Linked DNA regions of Homo sapiens: regions 1 and 2 are each linked to region 3. The links come from fine-mapping of genetic effects on gene expression. A gene starts in region 3. Each other region holds a variant in brackets. All regions are shown on one strand. Distances are from middle to middle.

Region 1 (10,815 bases), 38 kb before region 3:
CTCTTTAAAAAGTATAAAGTAAAATTAAATGATTAAAAAATGCGTGTAATCAGTAGCATTCCAACTTTCTTAAAATAATGATGTGTACATAACTACATGTTTTACAAAGTAAGGCATCTTAGACAGAATGAAGAAACAACACCTTCAAAGCAATAAGACACAGCGGACCTAGAATATGGGCAAATGCCCTGAACAGATATTTCACAGAAGAACCTGGCAAGCTAATGAGGGTGTGAAAATAGGCTCAAGCTCAGCAGAAATCAGAGAAATGCAAACTCAAACTACAACAGCCTCCCACTGTACACTTATCTGACTGGCAAAACAGAAAGCTGGACTTTGCCAGACTAGCCGGGACAGAGGGGGACAGGCCTGGTCCAACACCCCAAGAAGCTCCTGGCCAACCAACGATGCCCGCGTCAGTTCCACTCCTGATCCCCCAGCCCAGGCACTCTCTCGGGCGTGTGATGCAGCAGAGGGCTTAGTCACAGGCAAGAGGCCCAGCAAGGCCCAAGTTAAGACGCACCCCCCCTCACCAAGTTGCAATCCAACGACAGTATACAGCTTGTGAGGACACAGGCATGGACATAAAGAGCACCGCAGTGGCTGCCTGTGGCGGTGGTGGAGTTCAGAGAGGAGACTAACGGCAGGACAGGAGGGGCAAGGGGATGACGGCATCTGCAAAGCAGCCGTGTGGGCGTCGCTGCCACCTCTTGCTCGTTGCACAACCTTTTCCTTGGATTTCTCCACCCAATAATTTCTCTTTTCTTGTCTAAGCTATTTCAAGTTTGGATTCTATTTCTCACAATTTAACAGCTTAGGAAAAAAAGAGGCTTTACTAACTCCCAGAATCCCACCCACTCCCTGGGGGCTGAACCCCATGACATGGGCAAAGCTAGGAACCAGCCTGGCACACCACTCATGAGTCCAAGCCCCCTGTGGAGCCCACAAGGGTCTGAGCGTTTGGCCTGCATACCCCAGCCTCTGATGGAGGCCTGGCTGGGTGGGTGCTGACTGATGATGCAGGGGAAGGGGCCCCAAGGTGCAGCCTCACCTAGTCCAGCCACACTGCTGTGGTTCTCCAGCATCACTTCCCTGTAGAGGGCCCTCTGGCCAGGGTCCAGACACTGCCACTCCTCCCGAGAGAAGTGCACAGCCACATCGCCAAATGTTACCACCTCCTGAAAGGACACACACCAGCACCCCAGGAATCCCTGGGTGCCAGCCCCCTTCTGGCGCTGCCTCATGACATGTCTCAGGCAGCTGCCCCATGGGGTTGGGCGAGACGCTCACCAGGACTCCTCTGCCTCTAATATTCTGGGGAGGGGCAGTCTCGGGGAGGAGGAAGGAACCCAGTCCATGGTGGTCATACAACCCTCCCCCCTCAAGAGCCTCAATTAGGCCCTGGTTTGGGCAGGGGTTTGCTCACTACCTTGGGGTTGGGGGCAAGGGGGCCTTCCTAAGCCCAGCAAGGGCCAAGGTAGGGTCTGGGCCCAGGGCCAGTGGGCAGAGCAGGAGGTGGGCCTTCACAGGACATGCGAGGGGAAGGAGGCAGTCAAGCTTCCTACCATGAGGCTCAGTGGTGGGTGGGCATCCACGTGTTCTGGCCGAGAGACCTGTTGGCAATTATGAAAGGATTAGAGGTCAAGGTGCCAGAAGCCCAACTTCCAGGCTAATCAAGGGGGTACTGTGCTCTCTGCTCCTTTACCTCCAGCCCCAGATTTCTCTAGCAGGGACATGGGGCTGGGCTGAAGCAGCCATGGCACTTGAGTGAAGGAGGCCCACTGAACTCTTGTTCCTCTTTAGAGTGTATGTGTGTGTGGCATGTGTGACTCACTCCACAAAGCCGTAAGAAGTGGATGCCACGTGCCAGGCACTGAGTAATGGGGATACAGTAGTGGACACGAGGACCCTGCCTTCACGAAGCAGTCTGGCGGAGGAAAGAGTTAAATAACCACACAAATAAGCACACTGCAACCACGACAGCGCTCAAGTACAGGGAACTATGAAAGCCACTTAGACTAGAACGTTCAGTGTAATGGGTCACTTCCCCAGGGACCTCGGCCAAGGTAATGGAGGTGGAGAGAGCACTCCAGGCAGCAGGAATAGCATGTGAAAGGGCCTGAAGCAAGAAGAAATGGGGTTGGATGAACCAGTGTGGGTAAATTCCCGGCAGCAAGGGAAGGCAGTGAGCGACTGGAGGTTGGGGAAGGCAGTGAGCGACTGGAGGTTGGAGAAGGCAGGAGCAAAAATGACAAACTGTAGGGAAGACAAGAGTGGACATGGAAACCCCTGCCCTCAAGTACATAAATTCCAGTCTCCAGCTCACCTGTCGCCAGGATGGAACCAGGCACAGGGATGTAATCTGATATAAATCGTTCACCTCAATTAAGCCAATGACCCCAGACCCTCTACCTGCCCAGGCATTCCCCCGGGAGGTCGGAATGGGAAAAAGAGTCTTCGTATGGCAGCTTCTGGCCCAGAAAGTGGTTTGTGGGTGGAAGCCCCAGGTCACCGGCACAGGTAGGCTGATCCCCCCACCTGGCTCCTGACAGTAGGAATGCCCGGAATAGCAACCAGAATTTAGAGAAGACAAACAGCCTACCCCACCCAAGGCACCGTTCCTTCCTCCACTGTCACTTATCCTAGGCCTTCCGGGGCAATAAATAGAAAGAGAAAAGGCTCTAGAAGGAGGTGATTTCGCAGGAGGAGTCAGGGCCCCGGGAGTAGACCCAGGCCTGAAGAAAAGGCCGCAGCTGGAGCTCGCCTTACTCAGGCCCCGGACACCGTGGCCGCCACGAGCGGGGTCTGCGGGGAGCTGCGAGACTCGGCCAAACGAAGCCCACCTCGCGCCGCCGCGGGGGAGGGTGGCTGGGCTCGACCACCTCCCACACCAGGCGCTCAAGGCCCCGCAAAGCCCCCGCGCTTTCCCGCCTGGAGGCCCGGGGGACGCGGGGACCCCAATGCCGAAGGCGGGAGGGCTAAGGAAGCGACCAGGGATCACTCGGACCGAGGGCAACCCGAGTCCGCGCCCGCCGCGCCGACTCACCCTCCCTGAGGACCACCCGAGGCTCGCAAACGCGCGACGCCGCCGGAAACGGGCCTTGGCCACCCGCGTCCGCCCCGCCCCGCAAACTTCCGGCCGCCCTGGGCCGCTCGGAGGCCCGGCCATCTCTGTGGTTCTCAGCCCCGCCTCCCAGGCTCCGGAGAAGGGGTGGAGTCAGAGCCGAGGAGGGGCGAGGCTGGGGCCCGAGGGACAAGAACCTGGGCGGGACCAGAAGCCCAGATAGGCGGGGCTGGCGCCTGGGGGCGGGGTACAGTCAGAGGCGGGCAGGGGGCGGAGCCGCGAGGGAGAGGAGGGCCCAGAGCCCGGAGTGGGCGGTGCCTGAGCAGGGGCGGGGCGGGGCCGGGGCCTGGAGCTGGGGACGCGGGCCGGGGCCGGGAGTTGCGGACTCGCTGGCGGGTGGGAGGAGCGGAGTCGGGGCGAGGCTGGCGGAGATCCAGGGGATCGCCCGGTTGGGCCCTGCGCACCCCGGATCACCAGCTTCGGGCGCTGGTTCCCACCGAGGCTGTTCAGGCGCCGCTCCCCCGCGTCCCTGCGACAGGAGGCGCCTGCTGGGCGCGCTATGGACCCCGCCTCGCGGAGACGCCTGGCTCGGGCCTTGTCCCCAGTGAGCGGCTGGAGCGGCCGCGGGGTCGCAGAGCCTCCGGGACCCCGAGGAAGGGCGCCCCTCGGAGTTGCCCGAGGCCGGGCCCGGCGTCCACTCGCCACTCGCCTCGCCCCTCCCCGGCCCCGCACCGCCCTCCACCCCGCCTCCTTCGGGTTCCTTCTGCGTCCGGCAGAGCCTGCGCGCCTCCCCCGGACGGCCACGGACTCGCAGCCTCGGCGAGGACGCTGCCTGCGTCCCGACTGCCTGGACCTCCCCGCGTGGCTCCCGGCGAAGCCCAGCAGCCGGAGGGTGCCAGGTCCGCCTGACGCGCCCCTCCCCACGGGAAGAACGGGGCGGGGGTCCAGGAGGGACGTAAGCCGGGCTCCCCCGGCGTGTTGATCCGAACCCGCGCGGGAAAACTTGCGCAAACCAAAGGAGGGAAGAGTCAGGCAGCCCCCAGCCCCCCAGGGAGGCCCAGGTGAAAAACAGACGCCGGCCTCGCCTCTCCCGGTGCGGATGATCCCGGCACTCCCACCCCCGCCCCTGCTGCCCCGAGTTCGGCTCCCTCAGCCCCACATCCTCTCTGGTCATCTAAGTGGACTGCAGCTGCTCAGGGAGCATGTCGCGAAGGATAGGGAAGGACAGGGGGTCTGCTTCCCCAGCCGCCCTCCAGACCCCCAGGGCTGGTAGGGGCCGGCAACCCTATGCCCCAACCTGGCCTGCTGCAGGTGAGGGGGGCACACCAGGGTAACACAGGAGCAGGAGGGGGAGAAAGCCTGGCTAGAGCATCCACCTCATAGGCACCTTCCTTGTGTCCAGGGTGCAGATGCCAGGGCTCTGAGGCCCTGAGGTCCTGTCTGGGGCGAGGGGGCTTCCTCCATCCACTGCATCCACTGCCCGGCTGAGTCTAGAGGCCACTGAGCAAGCAGACCCTCCAAAGCCAGGCACACTCAGGCCCTCACATGGTCACGGTGCTTATGCTCTGGGCCAGCCTGGATTGCTCATCCCTAGCTGAGATTGGGATTCACAGGGTCTTCCAGTTCCCCCTTTTCTTTCTCTACTGATTGAGAAACACAGAGTCCTTTGATTGCTCTGGGACCTGGCCATTGCGTGTTCCCTGCAGCCTTGAACCCAGTTCAATGGGGCCGGGCACATTCCCTGATAAAGCTGTTTAGGTTGCTTGAAAACACAATCAACCCTATTGCTAAACACGTAGAAACTGGCCCTGCCCTGAGTCCAATCCCTTAAACTCTCATCTAAGCTCCATAGCCAGAGTCCCTTGCTGCAAATGTACCTGGGTGGAGCATCCCTTGCCTCATCATCGATCCCAAGAAAGCTGAAGCTCCATGTGAAAATTTCCGGAAGAAATGCTCTGGACTGATCACCCTGGCGTTTAGAGCTTCTTTCCTTGGAATCCCAACCAATTCCATCGCGGGACTGTTTGGGGAAGTCTTTTGAGGCAACTCCCTTGCTGCCACTTTTGGGGCAACTCTAGCCTCCTCATATTTGGCCAGATAGAACAGTTCCAAGCTGTAAATGTTTCCAGGAAAAAATCTCAACTACAAAGACACTTTCAAGGTGCTGCATTTCCAACAGCACTCTCCGTATCCGAGTGGACAGCCCAGAGCAATGGTGCTTCCAATCCACAGAGCCCCTCCACAGGTCCCTTGCCATCTGCAGACACCCACATCTCAAGGTGAGTGCAGACACCCACATCTCAAGGTGAGTTCAAATGTATCCTGGATTTGTTTTTTGTTTGTTTGTTTGTTTTTTAAGGCAGAGTTTCACTTTTGTTGCCCAGGCTGGAGTGCAATGACAGTCTCAGCTCACTGCAACCTCTGCTCCCGGGTTCAAGCGATTCTCCTGCCTCGGCCTCCCGAGTAGCTGAGATTACAGGCACCTGCCACCACGCCTGGCTAATTTTTTGTATTTTTAGTAGAAACGGGGTTTCACCATGTTAGCCAGGCTGGTCTCGAACTCCTGACCTCAGGAGATCTGCCCACCTCGGTCGCCCAAATTGCTGGGATTACAAGCGTGAGCCACCGCGCCCGGACCCGTGGATTTGTTTTAACAGGTGTGGTAAGGCATGCACACGTGAGAATGACTGTTGTGAAGGAAGAAGTTATAGTCGTGGGTCCCTGGAAACTGGGCAGGGCACACAGGG[C/T]GACATGAGAAGGACCAGGGATGGCCAGGAGGCAGAAAGGGGGAGAGGACTGAGTTTGGCCGGAGCCTTTATTTTCTCTGGAAGGAGAGGGCAGGCAGGGTAGGTATGCAGAGTGAGCTCACGATTGGACTATTTGAACAATTGTGGCAGGCTCAGGGCTGTAGGGGTGGCCCCTTCTTGTCCGGTACCTGGCCCTCGGGTTACTTAGGGCAGGGGAAATATTGGCTTGGTGAGTGACCGTGTGATAAGGGAGGGAGATAGTTGTGGACTCTGGATTGGTTGGTTTGTGTCTCAAAGGTGCACTGGGGCTGGGCACAGTGGCTCACGCTTGTAATCCCAGCACTTTGGAGGCCGAGGAGGGCAGATCACCTGAGGTGAGACCAGCCTGGCCAACATGGTGAAACCTCGTCTCTATTAAAATACAAAAAAATTAGCAGGGTGTGGTGGTGCACGCATGTAGTCCCAGGTATTCAGGAGGCTGAGGTGGGAGAATCGCCTGCACGCAGGAGGCAGAGGCTACAGTGAGCCCAGATCACGCCACTGCACTCCAGCCTGGGTGACAGAGCGAGACTCCGTCTCAAAAAAAAAAAAAAAAGGTGCACTGGAAGGGGAGTGTTTGCCGTCTCTGGGAATTAGCTAGCCCTGGAGGGAGCAGCCTCTCCAGGATCAAGGCCCCAAATGCTTGGGTGACCCTGGAGAGCAGGGACGGAGCCCTGCAAACAAAAGGTTCTTCATTCTATGCACACACTCTCTGGTGCATGGTTTCAAAATGTCTTCGTGAAGTCGGGTCCAAGCCTCTATGCAGTGGAGAGAACACCTAGGGAGGAACAGTGCCTGACGGGTGAGCTGGGGAGGAGTGGGCACTGCCAGGAGGGCACTGGGCTGCTGTGGGATGGGGTGAGGTGAGCATCAGGTCGCGGTGCTGTAGGTGTTCCTGGAAGGCACCCTGGGCCCTCTGGACAGTCAGTCCTCACCCATGCCGCACCCATCAGAGTACAGAGATCGTGCCTCCCTGTAGTGATGATCTGTTTGGGATGGCATGATGACAACCACAAGCAGAATCTGCTTTTCTCTAACAGCCAAATCAAGAGAGACTGGAGGCTTGTGCCAGCTGGGCATCTTTGGGGGTGAGATCTTGGCAGCCGCTTCCTACCCTTCAAGTGTCCTGTGGGCAGCCCGCCTGGCTAGCTGGGTATGAGGGTCCGCCGGTTCAGGCCCTGCCTGCTGCACCTCCCCAGGCTCACTCCAGGCCTCTGGACTGTTTTCCTCAAGCAGGATTTCCAGCCTGCAAACCTGAGCTAATCTCCCTGCTGGAATGAGGGGAGGCGCCCTGGATCCTCACCCGGCCAGAAACGGGGGAGAGTGCTCCCAAGGGACCCTAGCAGAGGTGAGTGAGCGTGAACAGGGTGGACACAGCTCCACTGCCATAGGCCAGGCCACAACTTGGAGTGGGCCTGGGAGCTCAGAAGTTTCGGAGGACAGAGAACTAGGAGCCAGGAGCCTCCAAGAGCCACAGCGCCCACCTCACGGAGGGCTGGGGCAGACAGCTGGCCCCACCTGGGCACCATGCCATACAGAGACCCACGAGTGCCAGAGCAGCCACAGGACTGGGGTTTTGGGAACAGCAGTAGAGGCTGCTGCGCACACACAGAGGAGGATGGCACAGAGGCCCTGGAGATGGAGGCTCTGCTGTGCGTTGGGGATGGCCGTGCTGCCATCACACCAGGGATGTCCAGGGGGAGGCAGCCTCAGGAAGCAGTGCCACACGGGCTGGTTATGAGTCGACAGTGAGGCTTCCAGCTTGAGGACCCGGTGACATGGGCTGGGAGAGGGTATCTACTGCCGTGACCTTGGAGGGTCTTCTCTGTGCCTGCTGTTCAGGGCACCAGGGGTCCTGAGGGGAGATGGTCGGTCAGGGAGGAGCAGCCTGAATGACAGCGATTGGCTTTGCCCTGGTGCAGGGACTGTGGTCATTCCAGGTGAGGGTGAGGAGAAGTGAGGTCAGGTGAGGCTGGGTTTCCAGGCCCTTCAGCAGCACATGGCCGTTTGAAGTGCATCTCAGGAGGCAAGGGATCCTTCCCTGGGTTCAAGCAGGAGAAACCTGGGGTTCGATTAGCAGCTGTTAGGACCTCCATGTTGTCATATTGGTCATTCGGGGCCTGTTGTTGAACAGGAACAGCTGCATTGCTGGTGGGGGCTGTACCATGGAGGAGAGGGGGAGCTGTCAATCAACCACCATTGCAGACTCTGCAGCACCCGAGTGGCGACAGAGATGGTGTGGTGAGAGGTTGGTGGGACTGCTGAGGTGCCCAGGACCAGAGGGGCTCAGCACAGAGGGGTCCAGGCCGGGTCTGTCCCCCCAGGACAGAGACGCAGTTTGGGTCTAGGTGGGGGTCTGTCCATCAGCCTTGGGCTTGTGGCTGGGGATGGCTGAGATTTGACTGTTGTTTCTTTGCAGTCTTGGGGTTTGGGAGTAGATTTTGAATTTGAGCAGGTGTAGAGACAAGAAGTTTTCAAGAGTTTCAGAAAAAGGAGTCAGCCGGGCACGGTGGCTCGTGCGTATAATCCCAGCACTTTGGGAGGCCAAAGAGGGCAAATGGCTTGAGCTCACGAGTTCTAGATCAGACGGGGCAACATGGCAAGACCCTGTCTCTACAAAAAATACAAAAATTAGCCTGGCGTGGTGGCGGGTGCCTGTAGTCCCAGCTACTCAGGAGGCTGAGGCAGGAGAATCACTTGAACCTGGGAGGCGGAGGTTGCAGTGAGCCAAGATCACGACACTGCACTCCAGCCTGGGTGATGGAACCAGACCTTGTCTCAAAAAAAAAAAAGAAAAGAAAGAAAACAAAGGAGCCAGGAGGCCACGGCTAGAGCCCAGGGCAGAAACCCTCAGCCGGTAGCTCAGACCTCAAGCCAGGTTGTGAGGACTGTAGCCCTGGCTAGGGGCGTGGAGCCCGTGGACGGCCGGCCATTCTCAGTGGAAGTTAGAGGGAGGAGAAGGGGACGTCCTGGTGTGATGGACAAGAGGAGGGTGTCCTAGAGGAGGGAGGGTGGCCGGCCACCAGGACTGGACCTGAGTCTTGACTCATCATTGAGGCCCAGATTGTTTCACAGAAGGGGGGCCTGCTCACCAGCTCTCCCCAGCTCACAAAGACCCACGAACGCGGAGGGGCCTCTCTCCAGCTCTCCCCAGCTCACAAAGACCCACGAACGCGGAGGGGCCTCTCTCCAGCTCTCCCCAGCTCACAAAGACCCACGAACACCGAGGGGCCCTGGAGCTGCCGGATGAGCCGGCTTGGATTGCTGGGCCATGTCGATGCAGGCGACAGCCGGGGCACAGGGCTTGTGAGGCCCAACAGTGTCTTGCCTCCTTGGGGTGGACTCTGAGAACAGACAGCTCCAGAGCTTAGAGCCTGGCAGGTGAGAGGCACTGGGGGTGCCTGGTGGGGCCTCTCTGGCAGCTGCTGACAGGCTGGTCCTGAACTCCTGGCCGCAGCTCTGGCTGCCTCCACATCAGCGGCAGGTGCAGCCGTCAGGTGTGTCTCACGGCAGGTGAAGGTTGTTCTCAGGCCTCAGGGCCCCGGAGTCCTCATCTGGCCCCCACTGGTGCCCTCCCCATCTTCCTCGCCAGTGCCCTTTCAGACCTGTGACCCCTTGGTCACTCTTATGTGGCCTGCGGCGTGAATGACAGTTTTCCCTCACAGGCCTGTCTCCAGCTGAGCACCTCTGAGCTCCCCTAGACTCCTTGGGGGCAGGGTCAGAGTCTCCCATGACCTCGAGTCCTCCAGGGACCAGTGCCCCACAGGTCCAGCCTGCATGGGGATAGGCAGAGCCAGAGAGTGGCCACAGGCCTGCTGCGGCAAGAAGGCAGGTGGCACGTGAGCCACCGCACCCGTCCTTCCCGGGCTGGTGGTATCTGCCTGTGTCCCTGTGCTTATGGCTGCTGGCGTAAACGTAGTTACTGGCCCCTCGTAGCAGGCCTCAAGGACTCCGTGGGCCCTACCTGTGCTCCTGTGTTTCTTGTGGCTGGGGCAGCAGCAGGCTGTGAGAAGCTCCTCCTTCATACGAGGGTTTCAGACCATGCTGGGTGTGCCAGGATGCCTTCGTGGGCAGTGGGTGGCAAGGCCGCTCCGTCCTGGCAAGCCTGCCCCTGCGCACTCGCGCGGTGGATGCATACAGGTGGCCGGTGCTCCCTTCCTTGAGAATGGAGGCCGCTTGGCGGGAGACACCCAAGGGAACGGCAGCACCTTGACAGGTTTGCTTCACTGCCCTTGGCTCCTGCCTTGCCGGAGTCTGTGTGTCCCTCAAGAGGGGCCGGTCTGCAGGGTACAGAGGGACCAAGGGATGTCCCCCCAGGGTACAGATGGTCCAGGAGGATGCTTTGCAGCTTCTCAGTGGGCATTGCCCCAGGGAGGCTGGTCTGCCCGATGCCAGGTGCTCAGGGATGGAGGATCCAAGCCTAAGCCACTTCCAGGCCTGTCAGGGCAACCTCCTCGGCTCCTGCAGCACAATCTTTCTGGTTCACTGCAGTAACCCTGGGTCCAGAACAGCCCTGACATGTCACAGCCCCTCCCCGTTCAAAAGCTGGTCTCTCAGCTCGTCCTCACAAGCACCTGTGAGGCAGGAGATGCCCTCCTTTGCAGGTGAGACACGGAGGCACAGAGGTCAGGCTGCTAAGGGTGCCACCAGGGTCTCCCCCACGCCCACAGAACCACCTCCTGCCTTCCACAGCAGCTGTGTGTGGGAGGAGGACAGTTGTGGGTGATTGCAGGCCAGGTGTGATGCTGAGCAGGAGAGGAGGAGCACAGGTGAAAGGAGCTTGTGTCCCATAGGCTGGGGGTTTCTTTTTCCAATGCAATGTGATCTCCCCCTACCCCCTGTCAGACCCCCTTGGGCTGCTGGTGAAGAAGTGTGAGTAACTAGACTCCTCAGTTAGTGACAGGCTTTTTTCCCCAAGCCAGACAATGGGGAGTTCACAAAGGAGTTTGGATCTTAGATCATAAA
Region 2 (10,815 bases), 67 kb after region 3:
ATATTGGGCTGAGTGCAGTGGCTCACACCTGTAATCCCAGCACTTTGGGAGGCTGAAGCAGGAGGATTGCTTGAGGTCAGGAGTTGGAGACAAGCCTGGCAACACAGTGAGACCCTGTCTCTACAAAAAAATAAGGAATTAGCCAGACTACAGGTGGTGCACACCTGTAGTCCCAGCTACTCGGGAGCCTGAAGTGGGAGGAGCACTTGATCCCAAGAGTTCAAGGCTGCAGTGAGCTGTGATCACAACACTGTACTCCAAGCCCCTGTCTTTTAAAAAAAGAGGCCGGGTGCGATGGCTCACGCCCGTAATCCCAGCACTTTGGGAGGCCGAGGCGGACGGATTGCCTGAGCTCAGGAGTTTGCAACCAGCCTAGGCAACACGGTGAAACCCCGTCTCTATTAAAATTACAAAAAATTAGCCGAGCATAGTGGTGAGCATCTGTAGTCGCAGCTACTCGGGAGGCTGAGGCAGGAGAATCGCTTGAACCCAGGAGGTGGAGGTTGTGGTGAGCCGAGATCGTGCCATTGCACTCCAGTCTGGGCAACAAGAGTGAAACTCTGTCTCAAAGAAAAAAAAAACAAGAAAGAAAGAAAAAAGGTGGTGGTGGATACATAATTGTTTGAGTGCTAAATAAATTGACTCATAATTTAAAACCCTTCCTCAGAAAAAATGCCAAGCCCAGATGGCTTCACCGACTTGTACTAAACAGTTAAGGAAGAAATAGCAACTATCTTACATATATATCTATGTTCAATAAAAGTTGGTTTATGCTGTGCATATAATTTTAGAACCTGATTCTTCTCTTTGTAATATGAGCTTTTCATTTAATTATATATCTTTCTATTATAATAATGGTAGAATTGTATTCCATTATGTGAATAGTTTTTACTGGGTTTAAACAGCCCCGTTTTTGGACATTTGGGTTCTTCCTTGTTTCCCCCCAATTACAAAATGCAGCGAGCATCATTGTAGTCATTTCAACGTACATATGGCAGTCCACTTAGGATGGATCCTAGGGGAGTAGTTTGGGGGACAAAGGGTGTGTGAGATATCAATTTTTTGGCTACATATTGTCAGCTTTTTAAAAAAGTTATATTTTGGCTAGGCACAGTGGCCTGCACCTGTAGTCCCAGCTACTTGGGAGGCTGAGGCAGGAAGATTGCTTGAGCCTGAGAGGTCAAGGCTGCTGTGAACTGTGGTTGCACCGTGGCACTCCAGCCTGGGAAACAGAGCAAGACACTATCTCAAAAAAAGGTCATTTATTTACAGTCCCACCAACAGTACACGGCATGATTGTTGCTTTAATTCTTTTTTTTTTTTTTTTTTTTTTTTTGAGACGGAGTCTTGCTCTGTTGCCCGGGCTGGAGTGCAGTGGCGCGATCTCAGCTCACTGCAAGCTCTGCCTCCCGGGTTCGCTCCGCCTCCTGGGTTCACGCCATTCTCCTGCCTCAGCCTCCTGAGTAGCTGGGACTACGGGCGCCTGCCACCTCGACTGGCTAATTTTTTTGTATTTTTAGTAGAGACGGGGTTTCACCGTGTTACCCAGGATGGTCTCGATCTCCTGACCTCGTGATCCGCCCACCTCGGCCTCCCAAAGTGCTGGGATTACGGGCGTGAGCCACCGCGCCTGGCCCTGGCCCAGATTCTTTACATCAGGAACTCGGTGGATATTTTTGTGCATCACAGCCAGGCCCAGGCCTTCCTGTCTGTCACTGCTAACTTACTTCTTTTGTCAGGTTTCAGCTTGAATCTCACTCCTGGCATTTTCTCTGACCATGTAGACTAGGTTGGGGCCAATAACACATTTACACAGTTTCTGTCACATGGTGTATCATTATTTTTAAGAACTTACTTGCTATCTAATTGAGTAGAACATAAGCTTCATGAGATCAGAGACTATATTTACCTTCCTGTATATTCCTTACCTAGAACACGCCTGGCCTTCTAAATATTTGTTGAATAATTTGCCAATTTGATAGGTGAAAAATCGTAATTTGTTTTGATTTGACTACTTTGATAACTAATGAACTTGAATATTTTTATCCTGTTGATTGGCCATCCCATCTTTACTTCTGAATTCTGCCTTTCACATCTTTTCCTATTGGAGCATCTGCCTTCTGCATGATGGTTTATAGGAGCTTCTACCACATTATGGACATTATGCCTGATGGAAGGTTTTCTCTAGTAACTCATTTATATTTTTCTTTAACAGATTCTGAGGTTGGGACCAAGAAGGAACTATCTATTTTAAACCAAAAATTTTCCGAAGAAGTAAAAACCCCAGAATTTGTATCAAGAAGACTCTTAAGGGATAATGCACAGGCCGCTGAGTTTCGGGAAGCATGGGGCCGTGAGGGCAAACTCAAAGAGCGCGTGGGAAATTCTGCCGGGCAGAGTTTGAACAAACCCAATATTCACAAGAGAGTTTTAACAGAAGCTACCGTGGGCAGGGAAAGATCTTTGGGAGAAAGAACCCAAGAGTGTAGTGCATTTGATAGAAACTTGAATCTGGACCAAAATGTTGTTAGACTTCAAAGAAATAAAACAGGAGAGAGGGTCTTTAAATGTGATATATGCAGCAAAACCTTCAAATATAATTCAGACCTAAGTAGACACCAGAGAAGTCACACTGGGGAGAAGCCGTACGAATGTGGCCGGTGTGGGCGAGCCTTTACTCACAGCTCAAATCTTGTTCTGCACCATCACATTCACACTGGAAATAAACCATTTAAATGTGATGAATGTGGGAAAACTTTTGGACTCAATTCTCACCTCCGTCTTCATCGGAGAATTCACACTGGAGAAAAACCCTTTGGCTGTGGTGAGTGTGGGAAGGCTTTCAGTCGAAGCTCAACTCTTATTCAACATCGGATCATTCACACAGGAGAGAAACCCTACAAGTGTAATGAATGTGGAAGAGGCTTTAGCCAGAGCCCCCAGTTAACTCAGCATCAGAGAATTCACACTGGAGAGAAGCCGCATGAATGCAGTCACTGTGGGAAGGCCTTCAGTCGAAGCTCCAGCCTTATTCAGCATGAGAGAATTCACACTGGAGAGAAGCCCCATAAATGCAATCAGTGTGGGAAGGCCTTCAGTCAGAGCTCAAGCCTTTTCCTCCATCATCGGGTTCATACTGGAGAGAAACCCTATGTATGTAATGAATGCGGCAGAGCCTTTGGTTTTAACTCTCATCTTACTGAACACGTAAGGATTCACACAGGAGAAAAACCCTATGTTTGTAATGAGTGCGGCAAAGCCTTTCGTCGGAGTTCCACTCTTGTTCAGCATCGAAGAGTTCACACTGGGGAGAAGCCCTACCAGTGCGTTGAATGTGGGAAAGCTTTCAGCCAGAGCTCCCAGCTCACCCTACATCAGCGAGTTCACACTGGAGAGAAGCCCTATGACTGTGGTGACTGTGGGAAGGCCTTCAGCCGGAGGTCAACCCTCATTCAGCATCAGAAAGTTCACAGCGGAGAGACTCGTAAGTGCAGAAAACATGGTCCAGCCTTTGTTCATGGCTCCAGCCTCACAGCAGATGGACAGATTCCCACTGGAGAGAAGCACGGCAGAGCCTTTAACCATGGTGCAAATCTCATTCTGCGCTGGACAGTTCACACTGGTGAGAAATCCTTTGGATGTAATGAATATGGAAAAGCTTTCAGTCCCACCTCACGACCCACTGAAGATCAGATAATGCATGCTGGGGAAAAGCCCTATAAATGTCAAGAATGTGGAAACGCCTTCAGTGGAAAGTCAACCCTTATTCAACATCAGGTAACTCACACTGGTCAGAAACCATGTCATTGCAGTGTGTATGGGAAAGCCTTCAGCCAGAGTTCACAGCTCACACCACCTCAGCAGACTCGTGTTGGAGAGAAACCTGCTTTAAATGATGGCTCTAAAAGATACTTTATTCATATCAAGAAGATTTTCCAAGAAAGACATTTTTAATGTGATAAATGCAGAAGACAGTTTAGCAACTGTTCACTTGACATTAGAAGATAAGATGGCATAATGAAAGATATATAAGGTCTAAATATTACTGGCAAAGTAAAATAAATAGTTCAGATGACTACTAAAGTCAAAGTCATTAAATCTGGAAGTAAACACGAGAATTCATTCTGGGAAATCAGGCTGTCTGTGTAAAGGTTACTGCTGTGCTCAGGAGTTGAACCGTGTGGTGCTGTATCCGGATACTCATGACGAATGGATGGAGGGCGTGAAAAGTGAGCCCAGCTGGTGCTCTGGGTCTACCCTACCTGACATCCTTCCAGTCTTATCCTTTGTTTCCTATCCAGGCCCAGGCTTGTGGCTGAGAACATCCACTTTCAGTCCCATATACCTGCCTCCAAGTGTGGTACAGAGAACTTGGGCCTGCTGGGGGCGCTTAGCCTTACTCTCTCCACCACCTCTCCCACCAACCCCCAGATGAACTGCAGGTAGACGTTTCTTCCTTGCTTGGAGCCCCAGTTTTTGCATTTCATTTTCATTAAAATGAAAGGTGGTTTGGTTTTGGTTCTAAGGAGCTCTACAGTTTAACAGAGAGAGGGACCTTAGGGGCCAAGAAAGCAGGGGCCTACCAAGTATCTCCACTTTTGAAAATTGTAATTACTGATAAAAAATTTTTTAAAGGCAGGTTTATTGAAGCATAATTTATAAACAATAAAATTTACTCTTTTTAGTGTATAGTTCTTTGGGCTTTGACAAAAACATACAATTGTGCCACTACCACATTCCAGACATTGAACATCTTCACCACCACCCAGAATTCCTTTGTGCTCTCTTGTGGTTAACCCCTCCTCAACCCCAGTCCGTGGAAACCACTGGTTTGTTTTCTATCCTCTATCCATCACCTCACCATTTCCAGAAATAGTGTGCAGCTGTTTGCACGTGGCTGCTTTTACTGAACATGATGCATTGGAGTCATCCATATTGCCTGTGTAGAGTGCTTTTTTGCACCGAGTAGCATTCCATTGTATGGATGGAGCCATTTGTTTATCCGTTCACCCATGGCAGGGTATTTGGGCATTTTCAGTATGGGCAACTATGATTAAAGCTGCCATCACTGTGTATCAACTACAGGCTGTTTTGTGAATCTAACTTTTCAGTTATCTTGGGTAAATAGGAGTGGGATTGCTGGGTCATATGGTAAGCTTATGTTTAACATTTTAAGAAACTGCCAAACTTTTACAAAGTCAGTTGTATATCCCCACTGATGATGTGTGAGTTTAGTTGCTTTGAATCCTCACCAGATCTTGGTATTGTCCTTTTTTTTTTTTTTTTTTTTCCGAGGCGGAGTTTTGCTCTTGTTGCCCAGGCTGGAGTGCAATGGCGCGATCACGGCTCACCACAACCTCCGCCTCCCGGGTTCAATTCAAACGGTTCTCCTGCCTCAGCCTCCTGAGAAGCTGGGATTAGAGGCATGCACCACCACGCCCGGCTAATTTTGTATTTTTAGTAGAGACGGGGTTTCTCTATGTTGGTCAGGCTGGTCTCCAACTCCCGACCTCAGGTGATCCACCCACCTCAGCCTCCCAAAGCGCTGGGATTACAGGCATAAGCCAACGTGCCCAGCAGTATTGTCCATTTTTTAATATTCTAGCTATTTTAGTGGAGATGTAGTGGTATCCATGGTTTTAATTTGCATTCTCCTATTGACCATGGTTTGATCAGTAAGCATCTATTTAAAGAGTTTCATTGGGAAGTTTGAATAACACTGTAGTAGTTTCTCAGAGTGTGATCACCTGTGAAATTCTGATCTTCAATTCTTTTTTTTTTTCTCCTTTTTTCTGAAACAAAGTCTCGCGTTGTCACCCAGGCTGGAGTGCAGTGGCACGATCTCAACTCACTGCAACCTCCGCCTCCCAGGTTCAAGCGATTCTTCTGCCTCAGCCTCCCGAGTAGCTGGGACTACAGACGCGTGCCACCACGCCCAGCTAATTTTTGTATTTTTCTTAGAGACGGGGTTTCACCATGTTGGCCAGGGTGGTCTCAAACTCCTGACCCCATAATCCGCCCTCCTCAGCCTCCCAAAGTGCTAGGATTACAGGTGTGAGCCACCACGCCCGGCCTCTGATTTTCAATTCTGAGACTCTACCTGCAAGAATCTTTTTTCTTTTCTTTTCTTTTCTTTTTTTTTTTTTGAGACGGAGTCTCATTC[T/C]GTCGCCCAGGCTGGAGTGCAATGGCGCAATCTCTACTCGCTGCAAGCTCCACCTCCTGGGTTCACACCATTCTCCTGCCTCAGCCTCCCAAGTAGCTGGGACTACAGGCGCCCGCCACCACGCCCAGCTAATTTTTTGTATTTTTTAGTAGAGACGGGGTTTCACTGTGTTAGCCAGGATGGTCTCAATCTCCTGACCTCGTTATCCGCCCGCCTCGGCCTCCCAAAGTGCTGGGATTACAGGCATGAACCACCGTGCCCGGCCAAGAATCTTTTTTCAAATCTACCTTTCATTCCCTCCAGGTCTAACTGAAATATTTCCCCCCTTCAAGGAGCCTACCTTAGTTAATCTCTCATTCCATCTTTGTTTTCTTTTTTTCTTTTGAGACAGTGTCTCACTCTTATCACCCAGGCTGGAGTGCAGTGAAGCGATCACAGGTCACTGCAGCCTTGACTTCCTGGGCTCAAGCAACCCTCCGACCTCAGCTCCCAAGTAGCTGGGACTACAGGCACACACCACCATACCCAGATAATTTTTTAATTTTTTGTAAAGATGGTGTCACACCATGTTGCCCAGGCTGGTCTTGAACTCTTGGAGTCAAGCGATCCACCCACCTTGCCCTTCCAAAGTGCAGGTCTTACAGGCGTGAGCCACGGCGCCTGGCCTTACTGTTTTCTTAGGGAATTTGGGGTCACCGCTACATTTGGTTTAACATCCATTCTGTGATTTGCTGCGCTTATTCCCCCGCTCAGGTTCTGTCTCCCCCACTTTATTATTAAAATTCTTATCACAGAACCTCTTCCAAGTGTGGGAATTGCCAGCCTTAGTGTGGTCCATGTGGAATGGTCCACACAAAAGAGGGAGTGGATAGCACAGGCTCACCTGGAGGGTCCTGTCTCCCTCTGAAATGGATTCACTCTGACCTCAGGGAAAACACTGAATCTTCTTGGGTCTCTTTTTCTCCAGCTCTAAAATGGGGGAAAAAAACACCTCCCCCACGTCTAAAAAATAACTCTTTTACCCTTGTATCCCACAGCACAACATTCATATCCCCACCATTTCAACTTACATTTTCCTTTCTACCTCGTTACCCTACATTATACGGAGAACTCTCTGCTGTCAGAGATGTTGTCTTATGCACCTTTTTATCTCCAGCACACGATACAGAACAGGTGCTTAGGATGTACTTGGGAAGGAAGGAAGAGAGGTGAAGGAGGCAGAGAAAGGAAACAGTGCCAAGAATGTGCTTTGCGTAAATGTGAACCTTGTGTTCTGCTTCTGCTCTGTCCATGAGCACACTGGGTACATTAAAATTGTTTTCTCCTTCTGATCTACTGGAAAGGTCCCACAATGATGCCTCCCTTAAGAGGCCCACAGGCCTCACATTTACGTAGAATGGAAGGAAGCACCGGGGCATGGGAGGGCTTGTGGGTGGCTCTAAGGGCTGTTGTGACACGTACTTGCTGTGGACCCTGGGACTGAGGATGTTAGTAGGACAATGCATGGTTAAGCACCAAGAGAGCAAGGGAACACCTCAGGGGTAAAAATGAAGACCGAAATGAAAGTCAGAGCTTCCCACCTGGAAACTGATGCTAGGACAGCTCTGGGGCTCGTTTACAGCCCCCATGAAGACAGGCCTGGGTGGCTTGAGGGTGATGGTTGGAACCTGGGCCCCTGTCTAAAGCTGGAACCCCAAAGGGTTGAACCCCCTGTATAAAGACAGACTAGGAAAAAAATCCACCTGCGCATAAGGAGATGCTGGGCAGTCTCTACAAGTTTAGGAGATGGAGATGGAGCTGGAGTCCTGGGAGTCCAAGGTGACTAGAAGTCAAAGGAGCAGAAGAAAACTAACACAACAGAAGTAAATATACTCAAGCAAGCATCTGGAGATACTAAAAACATCTAGAATCAGATATTTTAAAACTAAAAAGTGTCTCATCCTATATTCTGTACCCCCAAAAAGAAACAGGAAGAAATACAGGAAGATATGGAACATAGGAAATTATAGACAAAATGACTCTTTCAAGCCTACTTCTAAATGGTTCAGAAAAAAGTGAAAGAGAAATAATATGGCAACGGTTAAGAACTGGTGAGTCTGAGTTAAGGTTATTTGGGAGTTCTCTGCATTATTGCAACTCTTCAAGTTTAAAATTATTTCAAAATAAAAAGCTCAGGGAGGCCGGGCGTGGTGGCTCATGCCTGTAATCCCAGCACTTTGGGAGGCCAAGGCGGGTGGATGATGAGGTCAGGAGATCGAGACCATCCTGGCTAACATGATGAAACCCCGTCTCTACTAAAAATACAAAAAATTAGCTGGGCATGGTGGTGGGCGCCTGTAGTCCCAGCTACTCGGGAGGCTGAGGCAGGAGAATGGCGTGAACCCGGGAGGCGGAGCTTGCAGTGAGCCGAGATCGCGCCACCGTACTGCAGCCTGGGCGACAGAGCGAGACTCCGTCTCAAAAAAAAAAAAAAAAAGCTCAGGGAGATGTTGATCAAAGGGTACCAAATTTCCTTTGTGTCCTTTGGAGGAAGTAAATAGGAAGAATAAGTTCAAGAAATCTACTGTACAACATGGTGACTATCGTTATTAACAATGTATTGTACTCTTCAAAACTGCCTAGAGTAGCTTTTTTCTCACCACAAAAAAGTATGTGAGGATGCATATGCTATTTAGCTCCATTTAGCCATTTCACAATGTACACATATTTCAAAACATGTCCATGATAAATATATACTTCTTTTGTCAGGTTCATAATTAAATAAAAACTTTAAGAAAGCTTAAGGCCAGGCATGGTGGCTCACGCCTGTAAACTCAGCACTTTGGGAGGCTGAGGGGGGCGGATCACCTGAGGTCAGGAGTTCAAGACCAGCCTGGCCAACATGGCAAAACCCCATCGCTACTAAAAATACTGTCCTTCAACTTCTATTACTTAGAGCTTAAAAAGAATCAGCCTATTACTAAGTCCAGTCTTCATTAATTTATAAACTTTTGTCAAGTAATCTATTGTACTTTCATAATTATAAATCAAAAATTAGTCTGGGCATAGTGGCTTACAATCCCAGCACTTTGGGAAGCTGAGGCAGGAGGATTGCTTGAAGCCAGAGTTTGAGACCAGTCTCGGCAACATAGTGAGACTCTGTCCCTACAAAAAACACAAAAGTTAGCCAGTCATGGTGGCTTGAGCTTGTGGTCCCAGCTACTTGAAGACTGAGGTGAGAGGATTACTTGAGCCCAGAAGTCTGAGGCTGCAGTGAGCTATGATGGCACCACTGCACTCCTGCCTGGGTGACTATGCAAGACCCTGCCTCTTAAAAAAAAAAAAAAAAATTAATATACTAAGAAGTTAAATGTTCAACTTAAGAAGTTAGACAAAGAATATTAGAGTAAACCTAAAGAAAGAAGTAGTAATGGGAAAATGAACATTTTAAAAAAGGAAACAATAAAGTCAATGAAGAAAACCAAAAGCAGGTTATTTGAAAGAGATACCAAAAGCACAAATGACAAAATAAAAAGAGAAATATTGACCTCATCAAAATTAAGAACTTTTGTGCTGCAAATGATACCATCAAGAAAGTGAGCTGGGCATGGTGGCTCACACCTGTAATCCCAGCACTTTGGGAGGCCAAGGCGGGCAGATCACGAGGTCAGGAGTTCAAGACCAGCCTGGCCAATGTGGTGAAACCTTGTCTCTACTAAAAATACAAAAATTAGCCAGGTGTGGTGGTGGGCGCCTGTAATCCCTGCTACTCAGGAGGCCAAGGCAGATTTGCTTGAACCCAGAAGGCGGAAGTTGCAGTGAGCCGAGGTCATGCCATTGCACTCCAGCCTGGGCAACAGAGCCAGACTCCGACTCAAAAAAAAAAAGAAAGTGAAACGACAGCCAGGCGTGGTGGCTCACGCCTGTAATCCCAGCACTTGGGGAGGCTGAGGCGGGTGGATCATTTTAGGTCAGGAGTTCGAGACCAGCCTGCCCAACATGCTGAAACCCCATCTCTACTAAAAGTACAAAAACTGGCCGGGCTCACTGGCTTACGCCTGTAATCCCAGCACTTTGAGAGGCCGAGGTGGACGGATCACGAAGTCAGGAGTTTGAGACCAGCCTGGCCAACATGGTGAAACCCTGTCTCTACTAAAAATACAAAAATTAGCTGGTGTGGTGGCGAGTGCCTGTAATCCCAGCTACTCGGGAGGCTGAGGCAGGAGAATCGCTTGAACCCAGGAGGCGGAGGTTGTGGTGAGCCGAGATCGCACCATTCCACTCCAGCCTGGACGACAGAGCGAGGCTCCGTCTCACAAAAAAAAAAAAAAAAAAAAAAAGTACAAAAACCATCCAGGCACGGTGGCGCACGTCTGTAATCCCAGCCACTCGGGAGGCTGAGGCAGGCGAATGGAGTGAACCCGGGAGGCGGAGCTTGCAGTGAGCGCAGATGGCGCGCCATTGCACTCCAGCCTGGGCGACAGAGTGAGACTCCGTCTCAAAAAACAAACAACTGAAAAAGACAACCCACGGTAGGTGAAAATATCTGCAAACCATCTATCTGCTAAAGAACTTGTATCCAGAACAGAGAAACAACTCTTACAACTCAATAAAAAGACAAGTAGTTTTTAAATGGGCAAAAGATTTGAATAGATATTTCTTCAAAGATACAC
Region 3 (8,491 bases):
GCGCCCCTCGCCAAGGTGGTCTTCCGGGATCCGTATCGGTTTAAGAAGCGGACGGAGCTGTTCATTGCCGCCGAGGGCATTCACACGGGCCAGTTTGTGTATTGCGGCAAGAAGGGTTAGCATCGCGGCGGGGAAGGAAGGTCGGGGTGGGGAGGGGTCTGGGTGTTGCCTGAGGAGTTAACGTCCTAAGCCGATATGGGAACCTCGCAGGCAGAAGCTTCAGGTGGGGACATCCGCGTGGCCAGACCAGTGGCCACCGGTGGGTGCCGAGAGAGTTGTACCGGGAGGCTGGATGTTGAATGCTGTGCTCGCAACTTCGCGGGTTGCCTAGAGCGAGGGGGTTCGCATTGTTTCTTACTGTGCTGACGGCCTGATGCTGCTTCCCCTTGCAGCCCAGCTCAACATTGGCAATGTGCTCCCTGTGGGCACCATGCCTGAGGGTACAATCGTGTGCTGCCTGGAGGAGAAGCCTGGAGACCGTGGCAAGCTGGCCCGGGCATCAGGGAACTATGCCACCGTTATCTCCCACAACCCTGAGACCAAGAAGACCCGTGTGAAGCTGCCCTCCGGCTCCAAGAAGGTTATCTCCTCAGCCAACAGAGCTGTGGTTGGTGAGTATCAGGCAGCAGTTGAATGCTGAGGGCTGTGGGTGAACATGCTGTGAGTGCCGGTGGACAGCCAGTGGCTAGACTTGGTCCCTGGAATTCGATTACCTGTTGTTCTAAAACTTGGGTTCTGTAAGTTTGAGCTCATCCTGTAGTCTCAGTTGTCATCACTGTACAACAGGCACAACAGTACCTGCTTTACTGCTGTTGAGGCGTTAAATGAGATTGGGACGAAGTCACCAGGGTCTTGGATTCTACCGTGGGCTTCCTGATTGCTGCACTTGCATGCAGTTGGTTAACAGCCTTTTTAGAGAAGGCAGGGAGAGATTGTGGCTTTCTCAAAGACGCCTACTGAGTGAGTGAAAAAGGATTTGAGTCTAGGTTAACTCACTGTGCTGTTTGGGAACATCTTGGAATCCTTGTGATGAACTCAGCCTCGCACAGGGGAGGCTCTGAGGTTGTGTTCCTGGAATAAGTAAAGCTGAGATGGGGCAGGCTGAATCAAGTGTCTTACGTCAGGTTGAGTGGCCGGCCTGACGTCTCACACATGGTGAGGGGGGTGCTTCCCTGCGCTTGGAGCTCAGCCAGCATTCTAGGTGATGGAGGTGAGGGCCTTGGCTTGCCTGCCCATTGTGGATTGAAGAAACTGGATGTCAGCTCACAGGGTGCAAGGGGCTCCCTAGGGTGGAGGCGAGTGGGCTTTTTGCTGGGTAGTTGGATGCAGTATTGGGAAGGTGCATGACAGGAGATTGAGGGGAGGTGGGGGTGCTCTGACCGACTGGGGGTTCCCTGAGGTATCTGATCCCCTACAGGTGTGGTGGCTGGAGGTGGCCGAATTGACAAACCCATCTTGAAGGCTGGCCGGGCGTACCACAAATATAAGGCAAAGAGGAACTGCTGGCCACGAGTACGGGGTGTGGCCATGAATGTAAGTAACCCAGAAATGCAGGGTTGGGTATTGAAGTTACAGTGGCCACACTGTTGGGTAGGCAAGTCCCATCCACAGGTGTCCCTGCAGGAGGGGGATCTACGGTGGGAGGAGCAGCAGGTGGTGGTTTGTAGTCACGGGACTGTTGATCCTGCTCCAGCACTCCTGAAGGAGGTGGGCTCACCCTCCTTCACCGTTTCTCCGCAAGAAACGGAGGCTGGGAGGGGCAGTGGGGGCCTGAGCTGGAAAGAGTCAGCCTGACTGGGGTTGTCTAGCGGCACATGCTGTGGAGAGGGGCTTCGCGGAATTGGGCCCCTGACGGGTGGGACCCCGAGGCCGGGGGCGGGGGTGGTGGGGAAGAGGTTTCTAAAGCCATCTTTCTCTGCCTGCAGCCTGTGGAGCATCCTTTTGGAGGTGGCAACCACCAGCACATCGGCAAGCCCTCCACCATCCGCAGAGATGCCCCTGCTGGCCGCAAAGTGGGTCTCATTGCTGCCCGCCGGACTGGACGTCTCCGGGGAACCAAGACTGTGCAGGAGAAAGAGAACTAGTGCTGAGGGCCTCAATAAAGTTTGTGTTTATGCCACCTGGCTGTGCCCACCCCCATGGTTTCAAAGGGAGGGGTCCCTGCTGGGAGGATTTCTGTGGGATCCCCCTGGTTGGTACTGGGAGGGAGTTAGACTACTGAAGTAGACCACCAGTGAGTGGTAGAAGCTTGAAGGGAAAGTCCACAACTAGAAACGGGGTGCAGGTACCCTGGGCAAGACCCTTGCTTCCCCACAGAGGGGACCAAGAATGTGGCATCCAGGACCTGACACTTATGTGGGTGACTCAGTCCCATGGCCTGCAGTGCTTGGATGTGAACACTCATTTCACGTATCAGGAAACAGAATAGGACACAATCGTTGAGCCTGGTGTTCTGGACCATACCCTCACTCTGTCAGCTCCCTGCTAACTTTCTCAGCACCTGAGGCAGTCCTTTGCCCAGGGTCTTTTAGCGACACCCTTTCCCTCCATACTGGCTACAGCCCTGCTGATGTCAGTGTGTTTAAGTCACTGCCAGGGATACCTGGCTTGCAGGTGTCTGCCTTGCACTGGGAACTTGGGATGGGCCCTGAAGGAATGTGGGACAGGCACCCTGTCTACAGCCAGGAAGCCATTCCTAGCCTGGCTTTTACCATTCTGTTCTGCATGCATTCCCACCCCGCCATGGTGGGGAGTGGTCACTGACTGGAGGGTTCTGGGTGCTTTTTCCTGTGGGTGGTGGGTGGGGCCTCATGCCTTTCCTCATTTTCTAGCCTGATAGTGACAGGTGAGGTTGAGGGTGGTGATTGAGTGTGGGGTCCCAGGTCACTGCTGGGATTGCTGAACAAAGGGATGAATGCATGCAGTGTGTGTATGGGGAATCCCAGACCACCCAAGTCCCTTCACCCACCCACCCAGAGCCCTACACTGGACTGGAGCTGGCACCAGCAGTAGGTTGGTCTGCTCCTTGAGTCCTGTAACTCCACAGCTTCGCAGGGCATGTAGCCCCCTCTTCCCTGGGGCAGAGAAACTAACCAGGAACAGCCCCCAAAGCTGCATTGATTACCTTAAAGCACATGGCCTTTCCCTGCTGGCAGGGGCTGATACTTTGGTTCTCTCTAGCTTTGGTAGTGATGAGGCTGACAGTGATGATTGAGTGGAATCAGGTTGGAAGTGTTGGGGAACCCCCCCTGCAATGGGAGGGCAAGTAAGCTGGTTTCCGTCACAAGGCAGAGTGGAGGGGCTTCCTGTTTGGCCATAGCCCATGGCATCTTGTCCCTTAACCATGATCCAATGAGGAGATCCCAGGACAGCATCCTATCAGCACTTTCACACGAGGAAGTTCCACCAGCGAATGCAGCAGCTGCAGATCACTGCCCCTAACAACACTCCTGTGGAACTGCAGCAGGCAGGATGAGGCACGGTCTCTCCCTATAGACTTGGTTGGAGGGTGCCTGGCAGGTGAGAATAGTCACCTTAGGCTTCCGTGGTCACTCCGGGATGACAAGTCCTAACTGGCTGCGCGGTGGTTCCTGGCTGTCATGGTCCACGCTGTCTCTAGAGAACCTTACCCCCCATTTCGTGATCTTGCTTTCCTGATCCTGCTGGTATGGCCCCACCTGTCTTTGGGCGCCCACCACACCTAGGCAGTGACCCAGCAGGGCCTGTTTATTTTAGACAGGCTCTCGCTATTGCCAGGCTGGTCTCAAGCCCCTGGCCTCATGTGGTCCTCCCACTCCAGCCCCGCCTCCCCGCCAGTAACTACGGGACCTGGTTTTGATCTCGTCATTCGCAGGGCCGGTCCCAGGGTCCCAGCTGACTTGTCGAGAAAGAATCCAGGAGGGCGGTGTTTCCTCCTGAAGGATGGAGGGGCATCTGGAAAGAGGGTTTTGGGAAAGCACTAGATGCTTAGCTTGGCCATAAGCGGTCACTGTTTTTCTGCTCCCTTCTGGGCAAAGTGGACGGCAGGGCTTGGCCGATGGACCGGCCATGAGGGAAAGTTTGTTCCAGAAGCAGCTCAGGCACCCGAAAAACCCTTTCTCCAGAGTGGACACTGGGCCCCATTTACAGGAGTTAAGGATGAGGAGCAATAGGTTAAACCCAAGACAGGCTTCTTTGGCCAGTAAGCATCCTTTCTTGGCCCTAAGGAAGGGTGCGGTTCCCGTTTCTCTGTAAATCGAAGGGCCTAGTTCTTGTTTGCGGCGCCTTTCGTGCATCATTAGGGAGAGAATTTCTCAGAAAAAGGGAAAGACTAATATGTTTTCGCCTCTGACCATCGCCCCAGTTCTGAGGCCTCTGGGCCGTGGCTTCGGACTGCCACCCGGTGGCAGCATTCCCGCTTTACGGCTTTGCCATTCGCGGGTCCCCGGAGCCTTACTGCAAGCCAGGGAGGTGGGCAGCCGACACGCGGCGTCCTAGCTTCCCAGAGCGGCCCGGACGGCGCCTCGGACCCAGACAGTCGGCTGACGTCACTTCCGGATCGGTTCCGATTGGCGGGGAGGGAGGGCCGAACGGGCGAGGTTGGGCTGCCGTGCTGCTCGGCGGCGCTGAGGTGAGTGTGAGCCCGGCGGGGGCGGGCGCGCGGGGCGCAGACCCTCCCGGCGCAGACCCTCCCCTGCGCGTTGCCCCTGTGCCCGGTCCTCTCGCGGTGCTGCAGGCGTGGGTCCGTCCCGCCATCAGCGGCACTTCCTGTTCGAGGGACCCCCCGGACAAGGCCCCGAGTACGGACTGCGCCTCGCCGCTCTCTGCCAGCCCTGGGGTCGCTCCTCACGGGGCTCCTTCCGCTCTCGAGCCCCTGACAACTCCCTTGCCCCACGCGGGGTCCCCTGGACTCCTGCCGCACAGAGCGGCTTCTGCGTCCCGATGCGCTCCAGACCCCTTGGTCCCAGCGGCCCGAGGCTTCCCATCCCGGCTCCCTCCCACGCTCCTCTCCTGTCAGCTTTTCAGGGGCGGGGCTCGTGCGTCTCGCGGTCCTCCCAGCCCTCTGCGAATGCCGCCCCTCCTGCCTTTAGCGTCCGCGCTCCGCCAGTGCTCCTCCCTCTGCTTGTGCCTTCCCTCCGCCCCACCCTCCTCGCTTCTGGCGCTCCAAGGCTTTTCTCCCCGCAGCCAGGCAGCCAGATTTTTGTTTCTCTTCTTTATTTTTTCTTTCTTTTCTTTTCTCTTCTCTTCCTTCTTTCCTTTCTCTCTCTCTTTTTCTGAGACGGAGTCTCGCTCTGTCGCCCAGGCTGGAGTACGATGGCGCGATCTCGGCTCAATGCACCTTCCGCCTCCCGAGTTCAAGGGATTCTCCTGTCTCAGCCTCCCGAATACCTGGGATTACAGGCGCCCGCCACCATGCCCAGCTAATTTTTGTATTTTTAGTAGAGATGGGGTTTAACCATGTTGGCCAGGCTGGTCTCGAACTCCTGACCTCAAGTGATCTGCCCGCCCCAGCCTCCCAGAGTGCTGGGAATACAGGCGTGAGCCACTGCGCCCGGCCTCGTTTTCTTATATCTCTACAAACCTAATACTGTTTTTGTCTCTTAAAAATCTACATATGTATGGCAGAGCACGGTGGCTCACGCCTGCAATCCCAGCACTTTGGGAGGCCAAGGCGCGGGGGGGATCACTAGGTCTGGAGATCGAGACCATCCTGGCTAACCCAGTGAAACCCCGTCTCTACTAAAAAATACAAAAAAATTAGCCGGGCGTGGTAGCGGGCGCCTGTAGTCCCAGCTACTTGGGAGGCTGAGGCAGGAGAATGACGTCAACTCGGGAGGCGGAGCTTGCAGTGAGCCAAGATCCCGCCACTGCTCTCCAGCCTGGGTGATGGAGCAAGACTCCGTCTCAAAAAAAAAAAAAAAAAAAAAAACTACCTATGTATTATACTGTGTATATTCTGTACCTGACAGTTTTTCTCAGCCTTATAACTGTGCTCTATCTCCTTGACATTACTTTCCACCACTCTGACTTTGCTGATGGACGCTGAAGTTTTTTCTTCTTCTACACAGGCACATGGTAACATTTTTGTGTTTCTTTTTGTGTGCATTAGCAAGAGTCTCCATAAAGTACATACTTCGAGTGGGGTTTCCCCACTGAGAGTTTTGCAGGGTTTCAGTTCTACCAGGTAGGGCCAGACATATTTCTAGAGTGTCTACCAGTTTACAGTGTTCTGAACATTTGGTATTATGAAGTATTTTATATTTCCCCAATCTGTGGGGAGAGTCTTGTTTTACTTTACATTTTTTCTTAATTAAAAAATTAGAGATGGGGTTCTCACTATGTTGCTCAGGCTAGAGTGCAGTGGCCACTCGCAGGCGTGATCCCACTACTGATCAGCACAGGAGTTTTGACCTGCCCTGTTTCCCACCTGAGCTGATTCACCCTTCCTTAGGCAATATGGTGGTCTCCTGCTCCCCGGATGTCACCATATTGATGCCGAACTTAGTGGGGACACCCAATTGGCACAGCAGCACTACAGCCCAGAACTCCTAGATTCAAGTGATCCTCCTGCCTCAGCCTTCTGAGTAGCTGGGACTACAGGGTTTGCCAGGTCATATCCTGTGTTCATTTATTAAAAATTGTGACATTTTTCTAATTTAAAAATGTTTTAAATATATTCTGTATATTTATACTTTGTTATGTGTCTGCAAATATCTTTCACTCTGCAGCTTGTCTGCTTGCCTTTTATCTTTGTGGTGTCTTGTACAGAATCCTTTTTCTTTTTTTTTTTTTTTTTTTTTTTGGCAGGGTCTGGCTAAGGCTGGAGTGCAGTGACACCATCTTGGCTCCCTGCAGCCTCCATCTCCCACTCTCAAACGATTCTTCTACCTCAGCCACCTGAGGTTTTGACTGGAACCACAGGCTCACACCACCACGTTGGCTAATTTTTGTAGAGCTGGGGTTTCACCATGTTACCCAGGCTGGTTTCCTACTCCTGAGCTCAAGCAATCTGGCCACCTCGGCCTCCCAAAGCACTGAGATTACAGGTGTGAGCTACCATGCCTGGCCTTTTTTCTTTTTGATGGAATCAAACAATCTTTTTCTTTATAGGCTTTTATTGTTTATTTATTTTTATTTCTATTTATTTTTTTGAGACAGAGTCTTGCTCTGTCACCCAGGCTGGAGTGCAGTGGCGTGATCTTGGCTCACTGCAACCTCCGCCTCCCGGGTTCAAGCGATTCTCCTACTTCAGCCTCCTGAGTAGCTGGGATTACAGGTGCCCGCCACCACGCCCGGCTAATTTTTGTATTTTTAGTAGAGACAGTGTTTCACCATCTTAGCTAGGCTGGTCTTGAACTCTTGACCTTGTGATCCACTCACCTCGGCCTCCCAAAGTGCTGGGATTACAGGCGTGAGTCACCGTGCCCGACCTTTTTTTTTTTTTTTTTTTAATGTTTAGGTCTTCAACCTGCCTGAAGTATATTTGTGTACCACAGAAGGCAGGAAACTAATTTTATTTTCCAATGGAAAACCAGTTGTGCCAATACCATTTATTGTCCTTCTTCATTGCCATTAATATTGCAGGTATATTAACATATCCATAGATGTCTTCCATTATCTTTTTTCCTATACTTAAACTTCACTTTCCATTACCATAGCCTAAGTCTTGATATCTAGTAGGGCACACCCTTGCCTCCTTTGGTTGTTTTTTTGGTATTGCCTTAGCTAATCTTTTTTTTTTTTTTTCTGGAGACGTAGTCTCGCTCTGTCACCCACGATGGAGTGCAGTGGTGTGATCTCGGCTCACTGTAACCTCCGCCTCCCGGGTTCGCGCCATTCTCCTGCCTCAGCCTCCCGAGTAGCTGGGACTACAGGCGCCTGCCACCATGGCCGGGCTAATTTTATATTGTTAGTAGAGATGGGGTTTCACCATGTTAGCCAGGATGGTCTCGATCTGACCTCGTGATCCTCCCGCCTTGGCCTCCCAAAGTGCTGGGATTATAGGCGTGAGCCACTGCGCCTGGCCACACTGCCTTGGCTAATCTTAGATCGTTACTATTTCATGTGATATTTGGAGTCATTTTGGTCAGATATCATGTCCTGTTGAAATGTTTATTATAATTGCACAAAATAAATTTAACTTGGGGATAATTGATATCTTTATGTTATTGAGCCCTCCTATTTAGAAACATTGTCTGTTTCTCCATAGACCTTTCTAAGGTACTTCAATAAAGTTTTATAATGTTGTTCATTACATACATATCTTTTTTTAAGACTTAATGTACTGTATAGTTTTTGTAGCTATTGTGAATGGTCAGTTTTCGGTTGCTGATTGCTGACAAATAGAAGTGGTATTAATTATTCTCTGTTGACCTTGTATATGGCAATGCTGTGGAACTCCTGTCATTCCAACAGTGGATTGATAACTCTTGGATTTTCTATGTAGATTATTTTTATCATTCTCAAAGAATGATGATTTTGTCTTTTTTCTTCTGATCCTTGTAGCTTATAT

Alleles and levels. Alleles are on the strand shown, and positions count from the first base shown. SD is a standard deviation of normalised expression in the study named. Not every link is listed here.
For the expression in unexposed skin of the gene that starts at base 4,571 in region 3, C is the high allele of the variant in region 1 and T is the other (small effect, 0.35 SD a copy in GTEx).

What was found. PIP is the estimated chance that this variant, and not a neighbour inherited with it, causes the effect.
Region 1: its variant is fine-mapped to the expression of ZNF34 in unexposed skin (GTEx, PIP 0.96).
Region 2: its variant is fine-mapped to the expression of ZNF34 in whole blood (TOPMed, PIP above 0.99).

Annotation. Positions count from the first base shown.
Region 1 is chr8:144,819,841-144,830,655 of GRCh38, reverse strand. ZNF7 (zinc finger protein 7) reads right to left here and starts at 3,096. Exons shown (of 5, transcript NM_003416.4): 1 at 3,047-3,096; 2 at 1,566-1,613; 3 at 1,052-1,178. The coding sequence starts at 1,568. It overlaps LOC100130027 (a long non-coding RNA gene), which reads left to right and starts at 3,616. Exons shown (of 5, transcript NR_147501.1): 1 at 3,616-5,343. RefSeq lists enhancers at 1,867-2,392, 2,393-2,918, 2,919-3,444 and a silencer at 2,776-3,905. The variant C/T (reference allele first, on the strand shown) is at 5,812.
Region 2 is chr8:144,714,783-144,725,597 of GRCh38, reverse strand. ZNF251 (zinc finger protein 251) reads left to right here. Exons shown (of 5, transcript NM_138367.2): 5 at 2,216-4,689. The coding sequence ends at 3,954. LOC100996662 (a long non-coding RNA gene) reads right to left here. Exons shown (of 3, transcript XR_001746144.3): 3 at 10,753-10,815. Among named protein-coding and RNA genes, the nearest start is that of ARHGAP39, 34 kb to the right of the region's middle. The variant T/C (reference allele first, on the strand shown) is at 6,164.
Region 3 is chr8:144,783,397-144,791,887 of GRCh38, reverse strand. ZNF34 (zinc finger protein 34) reads left to right here and starts at 4,571. Exons shown (of 6, transcript NM_001286769.2): 1 at 4,571-4,609. It overlaps RPL8 (ribosomal protein L8), which reads left to right. Exons shown (of 5, transcript NM_001317782.2): 2 at 1-115; 3 at 393-611; 4 at 1,418-1,533; 5 at 1,926-2,119. The coding sequence ends at 2,084. It also overlaps the pseudogene RN7SL395P. RefSeq lists enhancers at 819-1,318, 1,319-1,820, 4,003-4,062, 4,103-4,332 and a silencer at 4,483-4,842.